2 separate regions of the Homo sapiens genome follow, and region 2 is linked to region 1. Evidence: fine-mapped expression QTL. A gene starts in region 1. The other region holds a variant in brackets. All regions are shown on one strand. Distances are between the middles of the regions.

Region 1 (9,447 bases):
TAAAGCCAATTAAGGTTATGAATTCTTGCTACTACTTTAATATTAAACCTTTAAGTGAAAATTTATTGAACACTATTACAAATGTGGCAAACTGACATAGCTGGTTTACTGCACAAACTTTAATGTCAAAGGGATTAGATCAGAGCTCCAGTCTCACTTACTGGGCCTATAACATTGTGCAGGGCACTTATCTCACCTCAGGAAAATGGAAGTAACTGCTTCATTTTACAGAGGTATTAAATGAAAGAAATGAGAAAACTATAAACCAACATTGAAGCCTGAATTATTGCTTAGTATTTAAAGTCTAGTACAATTGCAATGTTTTTAATAAAAAAACTCATTGATAGGTGTATTTTTACAGTGTATCTAAAAGCAGCATTTAACATTAAAAACTTAGTATTTAAAAGAGTACACAACCAGGCAGGGTGTGGTGGCTCACGCCTGTAATCCTAACACTTTGGGAGGCCAAGATGGGAGGATCACTTGAGGCCAGGAGTTCGAGACCAGCCTGGTCAACACAGCGAGACCCCAACTTTTTTTTTTTTTGAGACAGTTTCGCTCATCGCCCAGGCTGGAGTGCAATGGTGTGATCTCGGCTCACTGCAACCTCTGCCTCCCGAGTTCAAATGATTCTCCTGTCGCAGCCTCATGAAGTAGCTGGAATTAGATGCCCGCCACCCCGCCTAGCTAATTTTTTTGTATTTTTAGTAGAGATGGGGTTTTACCATGTTAGTCAGGCTGGTCTTGAACTCCTGACCTCAGGTGATCCACCCACCTCACCTTCCCAAAATGCTGGGATTACAGGCATGAGCCACCATGCCCGGCCAATGCCATCTATTAAAAAAACAAAGAAAAAGAGTACACAACCACAAAGCACTGGGCCAAATGCATTGTTTCCATGTTTGCAAGGATTTACCATAGAAATATTAGGTTGATGCAAAAATTAAATTTCCAGACTGCGAATTTTAAATCATTGTAACTACGCTAAAACATATTCTATTAATCAAAACAGGAACCATTACAATCAACACATTTTTGCCAATGAGAAATGTTTGTTTATTCCTGTAGCATAAAAATCCGTGCTTCAGGATTTGACGAACTCTTGGAAAGCATTTTCTGCACCATGCTGAAGTGTTTTCCCTGCAAAAAGTTGTCAAGATGCTAGCAGAAGTGGTAGTCAGTTGGCGAAAGGTCAGGTGAATATGGTGGATGAGGCAAAACTTTGTAGCCCAATTCCTTCAACTTTTGAAGCACTGGTTGTGCGACACGCAGTCAGGTGTTGTCGTGGAGAAGAATTGGGCCCTTTCTGTTGACCAATGCAGGCAGCAGGTATTGCAGTTTTCGGTGCATCTTACCAATTTGCTGAGCATACTTCTCAGATGTAATGGTTTCACCAGGATTCAGAAAACTGTAGTGGATCAGATGGGCAGCAGACCACCGAACAGTGACCATGACCTTTTTTTTGGTGCAAGTTTGGCTTTGGGAACTGCTTTGGAGCTGCCTCTTGGTCCAACCACTGAGCTGGTTGTTGTATAAAATTCACTTTTCATTACATGTCACAATCCGATTGAGAAATGGTTTGTTGTTGCGTAGCATAAAAGAAGACTACACTTCAAAACGATAGTTTTGATTTCCGCTCAGCTCATGAGGCACCCACTTATCAAGCTTTTTCACCTTTCCAATTTGCTTCGAATGCTGAACGACCCTAATGACCGTAGAATAGTCAACGCTGAGTTCTTCTGTAATTTTTCATGTAGTTCAATGATTGCTCTCAATTGGTCGTTGTCAACTTCCCATGGCCCATATCACGTTCCTCATCTTCAAGGCTCTCTTCCTTGCAAAACTTCTTAAGCCACCACTGCACTGTATGTTTGTTAGCAGTTCCTGGGCCAAATGTGTTACTGATGTTTTGAGTTGTCTTCGCTGCTTTATGAACCATTTTGAACTCGAATAAGAAAACTGCTCCAAATTTGCTTTTTATCTAACATCATTAGACAAAAAGCATATTCTAAAATAAACAGCAATAAGTCATTAGCAAAAAAATAAAGTGAGAAATGTGCATTAAAATGATCCACATTTATTTAAGAATGTATTCCAATATCAAACAGCAAATTTCAAAAATGCAAAAACGCAATTGCTTTTGCCTCTCAGGTACATCACTTGACCTTTCTAGTTCTCACCCACTTCACCCCTAAAATCGGAAAATCTTTCTGCAAGAAAAAAATTTGACCACATTCCCTTAAGGCCTCTTCCAATTTCAAGAGCTGTGCTTTACCATGACAAAACGAACCTAGCTCTTTTCCCAATTTTGCAACGTCAGAAAAAGGAGGAAGGGGAAATAGCTGTGTTTAAAACATTTTTTACCAAATAGAAATATTATAAGATTATGGAAAAAAAAATACTAAATGTTGGAGTCATCCTGATAAAAACCCAAATGGATACTGTGTGGGAAAAAAAGTTAACCCATCCATTCTGGAGTCAATATTTATTCTTAATAAGCAAGAAAACTGAAGAAAAAAAATCAGTATAAGATCTACAGCCTGTAGCCTAAACACTTCAGGGCATTTAGGATAAATAAGCGCCTGCACCTTCCCAGGCAAGTCAAAACCACGACATAAAACAGAGAAATATGTAAGGAAAACCTACAGCCCAAGAGTTTAAGAGCAAGACAGGCCAATTTCTTCAAATAAATTTAAGCAATGCTGCTAAAAGCTGCTTTACACATCCCTATTACCATGTACTACTTCCAAATTTCGAGGAGGAGGGGCATGGAATTACACAAGATCTGGATCGTATGTTTACTAAGAAACCAAAAATTATAGGTTCTGGGGCGTTTCAACATTTCACCTGAGATGGCCAGAACGGGCGCATCTTTAGACCTTTAAAACCTAAATTAAAAACTATCAGTACCGAGGAAGGGCCGAAGAGCTCAATACCCACCCAATACAACCCCCACTTCCGACCTACAGACGCTCTGCTGAGCGGCTGGGAGAATCCGTCGCGCCAGTCAGGGCCCGGCTTCTTCCAACAACAGACACTTTGCGAGCCTTCCAGAAGCCTTGGCTAAGCGAGAAGGCAGGGTGGAGGCCGCCACTGCGAGGACGGTCCCCACCCAGCTGCGAGGAGCTCGCGGTTCCCCAGAGGGGCGGGCCTGCGTCCGGGTAACCGTGCGCGACGTCCACGAGTTTTTAGGACGACCAGCCCTTCAGCCTCTAGGCCCCGACGCCTGCGCCATTTAAGCCACATATCCGCCCGCCCGGCCGCGGCCAAGGCCGGCGGCAGCTACGTAGCCGCCGCCGCCCGGGGCCCCACAGCCCACGGGCCGGATGGACCGAGCGCCGGCTGCGGCGTTCCGGTGCGCGCGCGCGCCTCAGCCAATCGCGTTCTCGCCCGCCCCCCGCCGCGGCGGCGAGGCTGGCGCTGGGAAGAGGAAGAAGAACATTCGCCCTCCTCCTACCAGCGCGCGGGCGGCGGCGGCGGCGGCACCGGGGTCACGAACTCTGACCTTTCACTGACAAAAACAATAACAAACCCCCCCTTCTCCGCGACCCCGGCGGCGCCCCCGGGCCCGTCCCCGCCACCCCGCTCCCACCTCGGCGTCTCGTCTCTCGCCCGCTGCCCCGCGAGCCCGCGGCCCCCGGGCTCCCGCCATCCGCCGACACCGGGAGCCCGGGCTCCCCGCGCCCTGCCCTCCGCGCCGGGGGCCGCCCGCCGCAGACACGGGACCCGCTTCGAGGCCGCTTTGGCGCCAAATCCTGAGGTAAAATTGAAAGAGGGTCGGGCGGGCTCGGGCCGGCGGCGGAGGGGGCGGGCCTGGCGCGCGGACATGGAGGCGCCGCGGCGGCGGCTGAACCCGACCCTTTTACCTTTGCCACGGGGTGGCGGCGGCGGCGCCCGGCGCTTTGCATAGTGGGCCGGGCCGCTCCCCTCCCCTCCCCGCCCGCGGCCGGGCGAAGCGAGCGGGTTCCCCCTGACCGGCCCGGCCGGCGCAAGGGTGGGGGTGGAGGGGGAATGGCCGCGGCCCCGCCTTATAGTTGGCCCTCCGCCAGCGCCGCCATTTTGTTCTCGACGGAGATGGCTCCGGCTGGGCGGGCTCCCTTCCTCCTTATCCTCCTCCTCCTCCCGCCTGCAGTCCCTTCTTCCTTCTCTGCCGGGATTTTCACCCCTCCGCTTCTAGTCCGCCTTTGGCGGCCGTCGCAGCCCAACCGCCGTTTTTTCTGAAGGGGAGGGTAAAAGAAAAGGAGGAAGGCGGGTGCGAGGCGCGACCTCGTGAGCGACGGATGGGCTGGCTAATTGGCGCCCAGATAGGAGGGCCGGGGCCTGTGGCACCGCCCCCCTAAGCTTTGCTGATTGGCTGAGGCGGAAGAGGGTGGTCCTTATGGGGCGCGGGAGCCCTGGCGGGGCGGGAGTAGAGGCCGGGGCGAAGAGTGGGGCCGGGTCGGCGGGGGCGGGGCCGGGGGCGGGGCGCGAGGGGCGCGGCCGGGTGGAGAGGCCGGCGCCTGGTCTTGGGTCAGCAGGTGGGCTGCTTCCCTCCGCCTGGAACGCGTCTCGAATGAGTACTGAGGAACAATAGTAATAAAGGTGATGAAGCATTTCGAGTCCACGATGCGCTCTCGTGGGAAGAGGTTTTCGGAACCAGGACACTTTTCAGGGCTCCTGCTCGTTATTTCGCAGCGGCCTTGGCGAATCCCCTAATGAGGCTCAATTTTATCGACTGTAAATGGGGGGCATGCGCATTCTTGCCAGGCCGGACCTCCCTTCTGAGCATTGTTTGTGGGGCTCTACTCAGAAAATGGAGGCAACGCTACTTTGCGAGCTTCAGAGTCACTTGAAAATGGTGTTATTGTTAAAAATGGGATTACAGCCACCAGGAGAGGCAAGCGTTAAGGGTATTTGGGGTTTGAGAGAGCACAATTCGGGAGTGATTCTCTTCTCATTCGTTCGCTGAATACATGTTGACTTAGTTTTTTAGGCACTGGGGACACATCTGGAGAACCAGCTGTACAAGACCCCTGCCCTCACTAGAGTTGGGGGCTGGGGGGTGAATAGACAAATAATTCCAGAGAGTCATAAGTTCTGTGAAAGAAAAGAAGCCAAATGACCTGCTGAAGAAGACCTGAGGCGTTAATTTAGATGGAATGGTCAGGGTGGCCTCTCTGAGTAAGTGATGTTTGAACAGAGGAACCCAAGGGAGGAATGGCATTCCAGACAGGACATCCCGTGTAACGGCCCTGGAGGAAGAGCATTTGATGTGATCGAGAACTGGCTGCTTGTGGCTGGAGAGTTGGTTGGAACTAGTAATTGTCCATTATCCCACTTTGTTTCCAAGCCAAAGGCTGTGAAATATAGCAACGGTAGTGAGGAACAAATCTTCAATGTAATAAGAAAGTCGAGGAAAATACAGCCTTCATATGAATTACTGATGAATACATGACTTGGGAGGAGGGCCTCAGAAACTCACTTTACTTCCAGATTCAAATCCTTCGTCAGCCTCTTATATACATTTTCAGTTCATCAAGTATTTCCTGAGTGCTACGAATACTCCAGGCACTATGTGCTAGGCTGGGAATACAAAAAAGTAAGACACTGGTCCTCAAACATGTGAATATGATTTATTTATTTATTTATTTATTTTTTGAGACCAAGGTCTCACTCTGTCGCCCAGGCTGGAGTTGAATATAATTCTCTGTGTGTGAGTTCTCTCTTTCTCTCTCTCGAGATAGAGATATTTATACACATACATACACAGACATAAAATGTTTTAGTGTTGTGGTTAGCAACTCCCCAACTTTTACTAGCAGTGTGATTTTGTGTAAGCTACCTTTCCTAGCCTCACTGTCCTCATCTGGACAATAATAGAGCCTTCCTTCCTGAACTGAAGATTAGATGAGTTAATGTAAATAATAGAGCTTAGAAAAGTGCCTGACATGTAGCAAATACTGTGTAAATAGAGTTATTGTTGTCATTATGAACTACTGGTATAGACATTGGACTAATTAAGTGATATAAATAATGAAATTTTTATGCAGTGTGGTGTAGGGGCAAAAACAATAGATTCGAACACCGAGATTCTAGTTTTGGCTCTGTGCTTGCAGCTAGTTACATGGCATCCAGGACAAAAGTTTGGAAAACAAAATAATGGAACTAAATAGTACTAACCAAAGTATAGGGTGCTTTATGATTTACAGAACTCTCTTACAGGCAGTATGTTGTTCAGGCGCCACTAGAACCCACGTAATGGCAGAGGCTTCCTGTTCCATGTTTAAAAACCTTTCCAAGGCTTTTCATTATTTTCTTATCTGTGGTACCCCTAGCTTCCTGTGCTCTAGACACACTGGCCTACCTTCAACTTCCTTGACCAGTGTAGCTTACAGTGTAAGCTTACCCCCCACCCCCACCCTACCTCAGATATTGGCTCAAGCATCACTTCTTCAGGGAAGTCCTAATTCCCATTGCCAGTCTAAATCAGATTCTTTTTATTCTTTTCTTTATAATCTTTATCTCACTTTATAATTACACACTCTATTATGTGATTATTTGATTAATGTCTGTCCTTACCACACTGTAAGCTGTGAGAGCAGGAATACATTTTGTTTACCATTACTTATCCAGCACTTAGAAGAGTGCCTGGCACTATTTGTTGAATGAATTGTTGATAATTTATGATGTCACTGATAACTAAGTTGCTGTACATTGATGGATACCTTTTGTGTGAGCCTCTTTGGCAATTCAGATAGCACTGCCAGCAATAATAAGCCTGTTACGGTATTTGGTTGAATTTAGCAAGTGATTTCTGACAGATATGCCACTTTCTGGAGACATAAATATGGATAAAATGACCCATTTCAATAGTTTTTCCCACTCATTTTTTTATGATTGAATTACAAGTTTAAGTGCATGAAAGTTAATAAGTTCATATGTGAAGAAATAAATAGCCCAAACATAACTTATGTTATTTACTTTAGCTGAAGAAACGAAGCACTAAGCTACCATGATTTTCTTGAAATCAAATATTCTGATTTTTGTCTCACCATCACAGGGGATTGGAGAGAAGGAACAAGCCTCCAGTGGGTTCACAGGGAATTGGGAGTTGAAAGTCTCTGTAGCCATTAATTCGGGATATTTATCTTTCTAAAGATAAATTGATTCATTTAATGAAATTATTGAAAATCACCTTTTAATTGCTTTACCAAGGTTAAAAGCAAATTTTGTTAAGTATACATCAAGTTTCTACTCGAAAGTGTGGTAAATAAAACATTTGTATTAACTTATTTTATATTGTAAAACTTTTAAAATAAGATATTGTTATGGTATTTTAAAAATAATAATAGTTTAACTGTTTATTTTTGGGTTTTTTTTTCTGTCTTGCTCAAAGATTTTTGGTATCACTTGTTCAATTCCTTAAGCTAATTACTCAGGGTAACCAAAGAACTGCTAGTTTAGTAAAACAGCTATATGTTGTCTTACATCGTTAAGTTATTTATTGCTTTCAGTAGTTGTATTCACAGTGACTTTTAAGTTTTGTTTCGTGATCATTCTTTTATAGAAAATCCCTGTGCGTAACAACCTCCTCACTTTATGAGGATGGCTGGAAGTTTTTTTTGTGTGTTTTTTTTTGTTTTTGGGAGTCTCGCTCTGTCACCCAGGCTGGAGTGCAGTGGTGCGATCTCGGCTCACTGCAAGCTCTGCCTCCTGGGTTCACGCCATTCTTCTGCCTCCGCCTCCCCAGTGGCTGGGACTACAGGTGCCCGCCACCACGCCTGGCTAATTTTTGGATTTTTAGTAGAGACGGTGTTTCACCATGTTAGCCAGGATGGTCTCAAACTCCTGACCTCGTGATCCGCCTGCCTCGGCCTCCCAAAGTGCTGGGATTACAGGTGTGAGCCACTGCGCCCAGCAACTGGGAAGTTTTTAGCATCTGTCTCCAAGGAGTAACATGGCAAGGGCAGTGCAGTGACAGAGCTTGGGCTATGAAGGCAGAAAGGCCTGGCTTCAGAACCTGGAGTTGGTAGCCTCTCTGAGGCTTATAATTCCCCATTTGTCAAACAGGGAGGTGGGAGCCAGCATTGAGATTGGGGCCAGGGATAGCGGATACTTGTTGTCTGAATGACTTTGAGAACAAGGGAGGTGAGTCTTTGTGGAGCAGCCCTGTCTTCAGCCGTGGCACTGAGCCACTGGTCTGTGTCTAGCTGCCTGAGTGTCTCCACATATCGAGGGCCCTCCGTTGGGATTTTTATTGTTGAGTTCTCTTACCTATAAGCCATACGCTCCTTTAGTCCCAAACCATCTCCTGTACAAGTATCATCTTAAAAAATACCACACGGGGGGAGTCCGTGAAGGAATCTTAGAATCTCAGAATTGGAAGTGGTCTAGACCCCAAGTCCAGCCTTGATGTAAGGATCCCCTGCTAGATTTTCGTTTACCTCTTTTTACTTTATTGCTAATTATGAGGGCCTTAAATGATGCCTTTTTTCTTCCCTGTGTGATCATCATCTTTAACTTAATGGATACATTTGTGCTCCTGTTACACATTGTAAAAGATATGTTCTTCCTTATTCGTTGGAGGTTTGCTTGCCTTCAACTTAATATGCCAGAGGCTGAGATTCTCTGTCATTCTCTCCCATCCTGCCACTCTTTCCCCATATCCCACTATTGCTACCCGAGGTAGCAGTCCTACTCCCCTTGCTCACTTCAGGTCCTGAGTGCTAGAGAGTAAAGCAGCAGGAGCTCTATACCAAAAGGAAGAACTGCCCAAGAACAACAGCTCAACTAGCACAGCTCAACAATGATGAGGAGTGGGAATGACTAGAGGGATGAAAGCCAGATCAGGGCATTGGCGTAGGCATTTGTTAAAGGTACAATAAATGCAGATGCAGACCCCTGGTACCTGGAAGTCTTAGAATAGAAGGATGGGAGGTGAATTGTTAAGGACAGAAAGGGAATAGGCTAGCTCAGACACTTAACTGTTTTTTCTGTGTTACCCTTGGACTCCAGTTGGCCTGTAATGATGAAAGTCAGCCTCAGAGGCAAGTGTGATTTTTTAGGGGCAATAAAAAGTACCTCCTTCACTGTAATAAGAGGCCTGAAGTCCTTTAATAGGAGGTGAAACTTTCTATTCCATAATTATTAACAGTTACCTCAAAGATTCTAATCCCTGAAATGTTAACATGTAGATGGAGAGGAATTTCATTCCAAGTGCCCAAGTGTAAAAGAATATTTCCCCCCTGTTTGCGTTAGTGAGAGGTGTGAGAAAAGGTCTTGGGGCCTGGAAAATGGGGTGACTGCTGCTGAAAAGTGAAGAGAAATGAGAGGCTGGTAGGGCTAGACTCAAGCCTGAAGGCTTCCTGGTTTTACAGGGAGCTGCTTTATTTACCTTTGTTGTTCATATGTTGATAAAAGCTATGCAGGGGAAAAAGTTTCCTACCTGACTGCCCACCCATGTTCCTT
Region 2 (9,447 bases), 72 kb after region 1:
TTGCTTGTTTGTTTTTGAGATGGGGTCTCACTCTGTCACCCAGCCTGGAGTGCAGTGGTGCGATCTCGGCTCACTACAACCTCTGCCTCCCGGGTTGAAGCAATTCTCCTGCCTCAGCCTCCAGAGTAGCTGGGGATTACAGGCACCCACCACCACATTTGACTAATTTTGTATTTTTAGTAGAGACAGGGTTTCACCATGTTAGTCAGGCTGGTCTCGAACTCCCGACCTCAAGTGATCCACCCACCTCAGCCTCCCAAAGTGCTGGGATTATAGACGTGAGCCACCGTGCCCGGCAGTGATTTGATTTTTAATTGGCACCCCTGTTCGTTTCCTGATTTCTCTCAGATTGTCACGGATTCTGCCTCTGTGGAGCGTTTACTGGGGAAGACGGACGTCCAGCGGCCCCAGGTGGTAGAGTACTGTGTGGTCTGTGGCGACAAAGCCTCCGGTATGTAGTTCCAGGTTATGCTGGCACTTATAATGGGCCAACAGCATGAAGTAACTGTTGTGAGGTGGGGTGGTAGTTAATTTAGAAGGACCATTTTATGTACGTTTGTAGGTTTCACATGTGAATTCTACTTTTCTTATTGGGGTAATGATGTAAATAAGTAAGGTAGTTTGTCAGAAATTAGACATCAAAAGGAAAAGTCAAGAAATTATTTCTGTGATTTGTAAATCTTGGTTGAGTGTGTAGTATTTATGTGCTGCTAAGAAAGTACTCATTGTCTAATCTTGTTAACATTTGTACAGCACTTGGCTATTTTACAAGGTGTATAATTTGTATAATCCCCCTTCATCCTAACTGTAACTATCTCTTAACATCCCCTCACTATAACCCACTGTAAATAACTGCTGTAATGAAGCAGGAGGAGGCATGTGATTCCAGCTAGTGTCCCAGGGTCAGGAAAGGCCCCACAGAGGCAGTCGCACCTGGGAGCCTTGGTAATTGTGTACATGTTGGTTGGAGCAGGAGGAGGGCATTCCAGCAAGTGGAGCCAGGGCCTAGAGTTTAAGATCAATACCCATGGTATCCTTGAGAGAGAGCTCATAGGCTTCTGTGATTACGATTGGGTAAAGTGAGACTGAAGAAGATGTCTGGCCCAAAAATTCAAGTGCTGGCCTGCTTGTACTGGGGATCCATAGAAGGTTAGTGAGGCAGACAGGAAGGAATGGAGAAGTATTTTACAAGAACACAGTACCAGGAATGCCAGGGGCACAGGCCTGTGTTCTGTGATGGCTGCTTGGTTCCACTTTCTTCTGTGGTCACAAAATTCACAGGAACTTTGGGCACTGTAGTCCTGGTTTTTGTTTGTTTTGTTTTTTAAAAAGGAGGTTGGACCAAGCCTCTTAGGAAGACAGCCCCAAGCAAGCATCTACAGAAGATCAGAAGCTCCAGTTTCCCTTCCATGCTGGTGACACCATTTATCTGCCAATGGTGCCTGCCTCTGCTCCCGCCCTTTGTCCTGGTAAACCCAACCCATCCTATCCCTTCTCTGAAGCCCTCACCTACCCCAGTAGGCAGATAGACAGTGCTGCTTGTGATTCTGATTGCCCTTTCCTACAGATTAATCACTTGTTGCATACTCATATAATTCACTCTTTACAGGCCTGTCTTCCCCATCAGAATGTCAGAGCAAAAACCATGTCTTACCATCTATCTCTGTATTCCTGTCTTCTTGCTCAGCAAGGAAAGGCTCTCTACAAACTTCTGAACAAATGAGTGAAGCATGAACGTAACAAAAGGGCCATAGAATCTGCTTGGCTTCCCCATTTGTCAGTCTTCTTCTGAGCTTAAAGGAAAGGCCTAGTCACAGGCTCTTGGTGCCATTGTCTCCTGATATTAGTGTCACTCAAAGGGATAGAGAACTCAAGGAAATATACTGCAAAGAAAGGAAAAACAATATTATAGAAGGCACTTTACCACAACTATTCTTAAAAGAAAAAGACTGAGTTATTCCAGATGCACACTTGGGAAATGGTTTTGCATACTAGAGCTTAGAACAGTGGGATTCTCTGTAGCCACCATAAATGGTAATCCTGTGAAATGTATCCTCCTTGGCAATGTAGCTATGAAATTGGATTATACAAACAAGACAGAATCAGAAGAGCATGTCCATGGTCAGTCTCAGCTGGAAACAAGTGGGCATAATGTATGTGAAAGTACTTTGTGAATAAGAAAGCTAAACTGAAGGAGGGGCCGCTTTTTTTTTGAGATGGAGTCTCACTCTGTCCCTCAGGTTGGAGTGCAGTGGTGTGATCTTGGCTCACTGCAACCTTTGCCTCCCAGATTCAAGCAATTCTCTTGCCTCAGCCTCCCAAGTAGCTGGGACTATAGGTGTCTGCCACCACGCCTGGCTAATTTTTGTATTTTTAGTAGAGACTGGGTTTCACCATATTGGCCAGGCTGGTCTCGAACTCCTAACCTTGTGATCTGCCTGCCTTGGCCTCCCAAAGTGCTGGGATTACAGGCATGAGCCACCTTGCCCAGCCAGGGGCACTTTTTAATGTCATTGATAATTAAAAGTTGGAGATACCATGCAAACTGTACACCTGACAAAGGGTTACTACCCAGAACATATAGCGAACTTAAACAACTCGACAGCAAAAAAAACAAGTAACCCAATTTTAAAATGGGCAAAATACCTTAATAGACATTTCGCAAAAGAAGACATTCAAATGGCCGAGTTATATGAAAAAATGCTCAACATCACTAATCTTCAGGGAAATGCAAATCACCACATGAGGTATCACCTCCAGTTAGGATGTCTATAATCAGGCTGGGTGCAGTGGCTCATGCCTATAATCCCAGCACTTTGGCAGGCCGAGGTGGGCAGATCACATGAGGCCGGGAGTTCAAGACCAGCCTGACCAACGTGGCAAAACCTCATCTCTACTGATTTTTGTATTTTTATGAGATATATATTTTTTGGCAGGGTGCGGTGTCTCACATCTGTAATCCCAGCACTTTGGGAGACCAAGGCAGGTGGATCACCTGAGGTCAGGAGTTCGAGACTAGCCTGGCCAACATGGTAAAACCGTCTCTACTAAAAATACAAAAATTAGCTGGGTGTGGTAGCGGGTTCCTGTAATCCCAGCTACTTGGGAGGCTCAGGCAGGAGAATTGCTTGAACCTGGGAGGCAGAGGTTGCAGTAAGCCAAGATCGCACCACTGCACTCCAGCCTGGGTGACAAAAGCAAGACTCTTGTCTTAAAAAAAAAAAAAAAAAAAAAAAGATTTTATTTTTATAAAATCTTATAAAAATAAAAAAATTAGCCTAGTGTGGTGGTGCACACCTATAATTCCAGCTACTCGGGAGGCTGAGGCACAAGAATCACTTGAACCCAGGAGGTGGAGGTTGCAGTGAGCCGAAATCATGGCCACTGCACTCCAGTCTGAGTGACTAAGACTCTTGTCTCAAAAAAAAAGAAAAGAAAAAATGTCTACAATTAAAAAGACGAAAAGAAGTGCTAGGGAGGATGTGGAGAAAAGGGAACACTTACACATTGTTGGTGGGATTGTAAACTAGTACAGCCACTATAGAAAACTGTATGGAGGTTCTTCAAAAAATTAAAAATAGAACTACCACATGATCCAGCAATCTCAGTACTGGATCCATATCCAAAGGAAATAAAATCATTATGTTGAAGAAATATCTGCACTCCCACGCTTACTGCATGACTATTTACAATGGCCAAGATGTGGAATCAGCTTAAGTATCCAACAGCGGATGAATGGATAAAGAAAATGTGGTATGTAACACAGTGGAATACATAAAACTGAATGAAATCCTGCACTTTGTGACAACATAGATGAACATGGAGGACATCATGTTACATGAAATAAGCCAGACACAGAAAGACAAATACGATCTCACTCATGTGGAATCCTTAAAAAAAAAAATTGATATCATAGAAACAGAGAGTAGAATAATGGCACCAAGACTCAGGAGGGGAAAAGTGAGAGATAGTTGGGAAAGACTGACCAACTGGTACAAAGTTACAGTTAAGTAGTAGGAACAAGTTCTGGTGTTCTATTGCACTGTAGCCATAGCTAACAATAAGGTATTATATATTATAAAATACCTAGAAGAAAGGGTTTTGAATGTCCTTATTAACAAAGAAATGATAAATGCATAAGGTGATGGTCACTCTATCTGATTTGATCATTATACAACGTGGATATATTGAAATATCAAATTATGCCTCATAAATATGGACATGGACAATTACAATGTATCAGAAATAAAAAGAGACACCAAAGTAAAACAAGATTAGAAAAATGGACTGTGTTTAATAAATGCATTCCTAGAACTGTGTTTCTAGAAGGCTTTGAGTGGCTAGCCCAGGTGGAACCATATGGTAATCCT[C/CT]TTTTGCTGTGGGCTTCGGCAGTGACAGTCCCCATGCTTCTCCCTGTGACTATCCCGCTTCCCCAGGGGAGGTTTCGGGCCCAGGACGTGAATCAGAGAGGGGCTAAATGCAGGAGTGAGACCCTCTGTGCCAAAGCCACACATGCACGTGTTTGCTATGTGCCACTCGTGGCAGGACAGGGGCCCTGAGCCGCATCACAAGCCCAGATCTCCAGGAATAGGACCCAGGTGTGTTCAAGTGGACAGTAGAGTTCAGCCGTCACCTGTGAGCTCCTACTGTATGTTAGACCATTTGTATACTAAGAGCACTAAGGTCATGCCATCTGCCAGCTGTCATATAACCTGTCTGAGTTTCAGTATTTCCATCATGAATTCATAAGGCTACTTGAAAGATGGTAGAGAAATTACGTGAAGGGTGTGGCCAGTATGCTTAATGCTCAGGCCACGTGGCTGTTGGCATCTAACAGTGTATGGCACCCATCACTTCAATGAGACTTGCACAGGAACTGACAGATCACCTCTTTGGTGAATCCACAAATATAGTCACAAAATATTTGTGTATTCTTTCTCCTGTTTCAGGCCGTCACTATGGGGCTGTCAGTTGTGAAGGTTGCAAAGGTTTCTTCAAAAGGAGTGTGAGGAAAAATTTGACCTACAGCTGCCGGAGCAACCAAGACTGCATCATCAATAAACATCACCGGAACCGCTGTCAGTTTTGCCGGCTGAAAAAATGCTTAGAGATGGGCATGAAAATGGAATGTGAGTAACAATATTTAAAAACCACATGAGTTAATGTGGAGGGAGACAGTAAATGAGTCCATTAAATAAGGTTTCTATACCTGGCCTTAAAATACTTTAAGAAAAAAATATGCACTCAGGCTTCATTTTGGTTTACCTCATGGGTCAGCCAGGTGATTGAGAGCCAACGCTGCAGGGGTTGGTCTCTTCCTGCTGTGTGTGTGGAAAGCCTTATTACAGATGCATCAGGAGGCAGCTTAGTGGAGTGGGTTGAACACAGGCTTTGGAGGAAAGCTGATACCAAATCTACCTCCAGGTGTGCCACTAAGAGAGAGCTATGATGCCTGAGGATACACGTAGCCTCTCAGCCACAGGGTCCTCATCTGTGATCTACTTAATCACCTTACTTATATATTGCTCCTGAGGATTACATGAGCCTACTCCCTGTCTTCTTAGCCCCTCTACTTTCTTTTGGGATAAGGTCCTTTGCCAAGCCTCTGTGTAGCTGGGATTCTAAAGAGAAAGCTATTGCTCCTGGATGTGTGGGGCAGCCAGGGAAGGTCTCAGGCCCCTCCTTTCCACTCCCATAGACAGAATTTTGGGGGTTTTCAGGGACCAGTCAGCATGGAGGTCACTTCCCTAGCTAGTGGTGAAAACATGAAGACCAGGACTCAAGATGGGCAGCACAAAGAAATCCAAGGAGAGTGGAGTTAGGCTTAAGCCACAGTAGGAAAATGGAGCTTAGCAGAGCAAGGCATGCAACTTGCATGCAACTTGCATGGCAAGGCTGGTGGCCGAGGACCCAGGACTGCAGGCTTCCGCTGAGTATGCTGCATGGTTCTGTCATCTTTTGCATAGTTTTCTAGGAACTCTGAAAACCAATATATTTCAGTATTGCTGTTGACGTTTCTGGGAACAGGAATCCACAAAATTCACTGGAGAATAAATGGAAATGTATTTTTTGAGAAATTAGAAATATCAACCTAATTTCTGCCTGGTGTGATGTTTTTATTTTATCTAATGATACTGCTCTTTGCCCAAAGTGAATAAATAAATCACTGACTTGGTGTGGGACTGGCCCACATTGCCAAGCTGTCCTTTTTCTCAATGATGAATATTTTTACTCAGAGCAATGACTGAAATCAGTTTTCTTGTGAACACAGCTGTAGCTGCAAACACAATATTCAACTGGATAGCAGTTTGATTAGTAGCATATCTGAATATTAGTCCCTGACCTTCATCAGTTTTGTCTTTAAAAAGCTTTCATTTTCTTCAGTTGCTTCTAACATGCATATCTGCTCTTACATTAGACTGCTAAAAGGAGAGTTTGCTAGCATAATATAAAATTGACACCCATTAAACAGTTTGCAGAAGCTATTCAGACTTGAGTTGGAAATTAGAAGGGTTCCTCTACAAATTGTGGCATAGGAAATGCATTCTATTAAGGGCCCACTTGAAGGTGGGCATTTCTTTTTTCTTTTTCTTTCTTTTTTTTTTTTTTTTTTTTTTGAGGCAGAGTCTTGCTCTGTTGCCCAGGTTGGAGTGCAGTGGTGCCGCGTCTTGGCTCACTGCAGCCTCCGCCTCCCAGGTTCAAGCAATTCTCCCTGCCTCAGCCTCCCAAGTAGCTGGGATTACAGGTGCCTGCCACCACACCTGGCTAATTTTTGTGTTTTTAATAGAGGCCGGGTTTTGCCATGTTGGGCAAGTGATCCACCCATCTCGGCTTCCCAAAGTGCTGGGATTACAGACGTGAGCCACCACCCCCGGCCCAAAGATGGGCATTTTTTTATCCTTGAAAGAGTCTATTTTGTTAGCAGCATGAAGTAAAAACCAGCTGGGCACGGTGGCTTATGCCTGTAATTCCAGCACTTTGGCAGGCTGGGGCGAGTGGTTTGCTTGAGCCCAGGATGAGTCCAGACTGGGCAACATAATGAGGCTTCATCTCTACAAAAAATAATAAAATAATAACATAAAATAATAGCATAAAATTAATAAAATGGCCCAGAAGGCTCATGGGTGCTTCCATAGGCCACATAGGTGCTGTGCTGCAGTTTTTTTTAGCAGGGAATACCACCCATCGTGAGGTCTTTTTTATGCCTCTAGATTTGACATGGCATGGTTTGGCTTTATTCCTTCTCTCTGGCCGAAAAGTCCACTGTGAAAGCTGAGCTAGATGAACCTAGCACCAGAGTCATCCTCCCTGCAGTAATGGATTTGGGGTTTTCCCTTGTGGTTTTTATTGATTGGAATTGTTTCTCTAAACACAAATATTTATGTTGTGATTTAAGCTGTGCAGAGTGAACGGAAGCCCTTCGATGTGCAACGGGAGAAACCAAGCAATTGTGCTGCTTCAACTGAGAAAATCTATATCCGGAAAGACCTGAGAAGTCCCCTGATAGCTACTCCCACGTTTGTGGCAGACAAAGATGGAGCAAGGTCAGTCCCTTGTTCTCACTGCAATCAGCCTTTGCAGCTGATGGAGGAGGCACAGACGTGTCCCACAGCAGGCACTGTTGTGGCTTCCCACCCATCTGCCATAGCCTCCAGCGTTGTGTTGCCTAATTCTGCCCCTTCTGGAGCTGCTCAGTCACACCTCTGGACAGGCCTGAGGATGCCTGATTTATGAAGGGGTCAGAAATTCTCCTAGCCTTGAATTCAGATTATGTCCTGCAATTTAGGCATCATTCATACGGAAGACAATTATTTTATGATTCAAGATTGGGGCATTTCTGCAGTACACACAAAAGGCCCAAGGTGAGATAAGGTCTCAGTGCTACAGTTAATTTGTATATTCTTTTTAATATAATCTATTGAACTTACTTTAAAAGGAACGGAAAGAGGGGAAAACAAGCAATCCAAAATGTATCAGAGAGAGAGCTGGAGTTGAGGATGCCTTGCTGATTTTCTGAAAATCAAGTTAACTTTTCTAGGCAGAATGGCCACAGTCTGCAGTCATCCTGGAAAGCCCTGGGGGATGCATCTGCATTTCATCCTGTCTCAAGCTGTAAACCTGACTTTATGTATATCTCATTGCAGAGAGACAGGGGTGGGGGTTCTGCTTAGTCACTAAGCGGCTGAGTCTACTTAGAGCTTTTCTACTATTCAGACAGCTTCACAAATGTGGAAGGACAGGTAAATGCAGCATGATCATACTGTGCATAAAATGTTGGAAGCTACTCTGAGTTTCTTTATGTCTTAAATAGACAAACAGGTCTTCTTGATCCAGGGATGCTTGTGAACATCCAGCAGCCTTTGATACGTGAGGATGGTACAGTTCTCCTGGCCACGGATTCTAAGGTGACGTTCTCTACTCATGCTCTCTCTCATCCTTTATGTTGACATTGCAGGCTGCTTCTCTAACTGTGTGCACCACTTTCTTCCTGGCCTTCAGAGACCACATCAAAAGCATGACCTATGTCTCGGTCTCCTTATTGTTGTGATAGCTATCTTGTGATTTGTTTTAGAGATGCTGATGGCTTCTCAGATCAGAGCTGGCTGGTCATAATCACTGTAACATGTCAGTCTAGATGTCAATTTGGTGGACATTCAGTGGTTCTCTTTTCTGTTATAGTTTTCTTTTTCTCTTATACACATTGGCAAACTACTAGCCAAGGAAAGAAATACTTATCAGATGGCCTTTTTGCAAAAGCCCCGGGTTCCTTTTTATTAGATGATCTTCAGGAGGAAGCTCAGCCAGGAATCTATCAGTTCCAAAACTTTGCTAGAGCAGATCAGTCATAGGGATTTAACTTGTGGACAGAGATGTTCGTCAGTCCAAAAGGGGGAGACTTGCTGGCTCCTGTGAAGATAACCAAGGAGGGGGATTTTTTCCAGGCCAGGGAACTCACTGTTTGTCTCATCCTGGTGCTCCTGATGTAAACCAAGTAATGAGGAAGTAGTAGCAGCAAGCCACAACTCTAAGAGGGTGACTTGGTAATTGAGAACACTGGCATTGCTGCAACCATTAGAACCAGAGCAAGGCCTGCAGGCTTCCTCCTCATCTGTTCACAGTCTCATTCATGGGTGTACTCAGGGCATTACAGGGCATCCTCTTTTGGGAAAGAGAAGACAAAATTTAGAGCCCTTGCCTGTCATGGAGAGCTGCCCTGCATGCCTTGGTCCTCAGGCTGGGCCTTGCACCTTCTGTCTTTGGGCAGGGGCCACATGCATGATGGGAGCTGATGGATCACGCATCGTGGGCTTAGCTTATCAGCAGCACACATTCTAGAACAGTGGCTCTGACTGCATGGTCAAATGCAGAGAAAGCGTAAGCCTGAAAGTAAGGCCCAGATAACCTTAAAAACAGATTACCAAGGGATTCACAGCAACCATTCTATTG

Alleles and levels. Alleles are on the strand shown, and positions count from the first base shown. SD is a standard deviation of normalised expression in the study named.
As copies of CT replace C in region 2, the expression in non-classical monocytes of the gene that starts at base 3,437 in region 1 goes up (large effect, 1.3 SD a copy in Schmiedel 2018).

What was found. PIP is the estimated chance that this variant, and not a neighbour inherited with it, causes the effect.
Region 2: its variant is the best candidate, but not a certain one, in a credible set for the expression of NR2C2 in non-classical monocytes (Schmiedel 2018, PIP 0.58).

What each region holds. Positions count from the first base shown.
Region 1 is chr3:14,944,147-14,953,593 of GRCh38, forward strand. It overlaps NR2C2 (nuclear receptor subfamily 2 group C member 2), which reads left to right and starts at 3,437. Exons shown (of 14, transcript NM_001291694.2): 1 at 3,437-3,760. It overlaps FGD5-AS1 (FGD5 antisense RNA 1), which reads right to left and starts at 4,295. Exons shown (of 2, transcript NR_046251.1): 1 at 3,867-4,295; 2 at 1-2,008. RefSeq lists enhancers at 2,588-3,277, 3,966-4,653, 4,100-4,299, 4,654-5,341 and silencers at 3,060-3,489, 3,540-3,609, 3,630-4,049, 4,440-4,499.
Region 2 is chr3:15,015,804-15,025,250 of GRCh38, forward strand. NR2C2 (nuclear receptor subfamily 2 group C member 2) reads left to right here. Exons shown (of 14, transcript NM_001291694.2): 4 at 349-451; 5 at 4,950-5,129; 6 at 7,397-7,544; 7 at 8,312-8,405. Among named protein-coding and RNA genes, the nearest start is that of MRPS25, 45 kb to the right of the region's middle. RefSeq lists an enhancer at 9,225-9,447. The variant C/CT (reference allele first, on the strand shown) is at 4,371.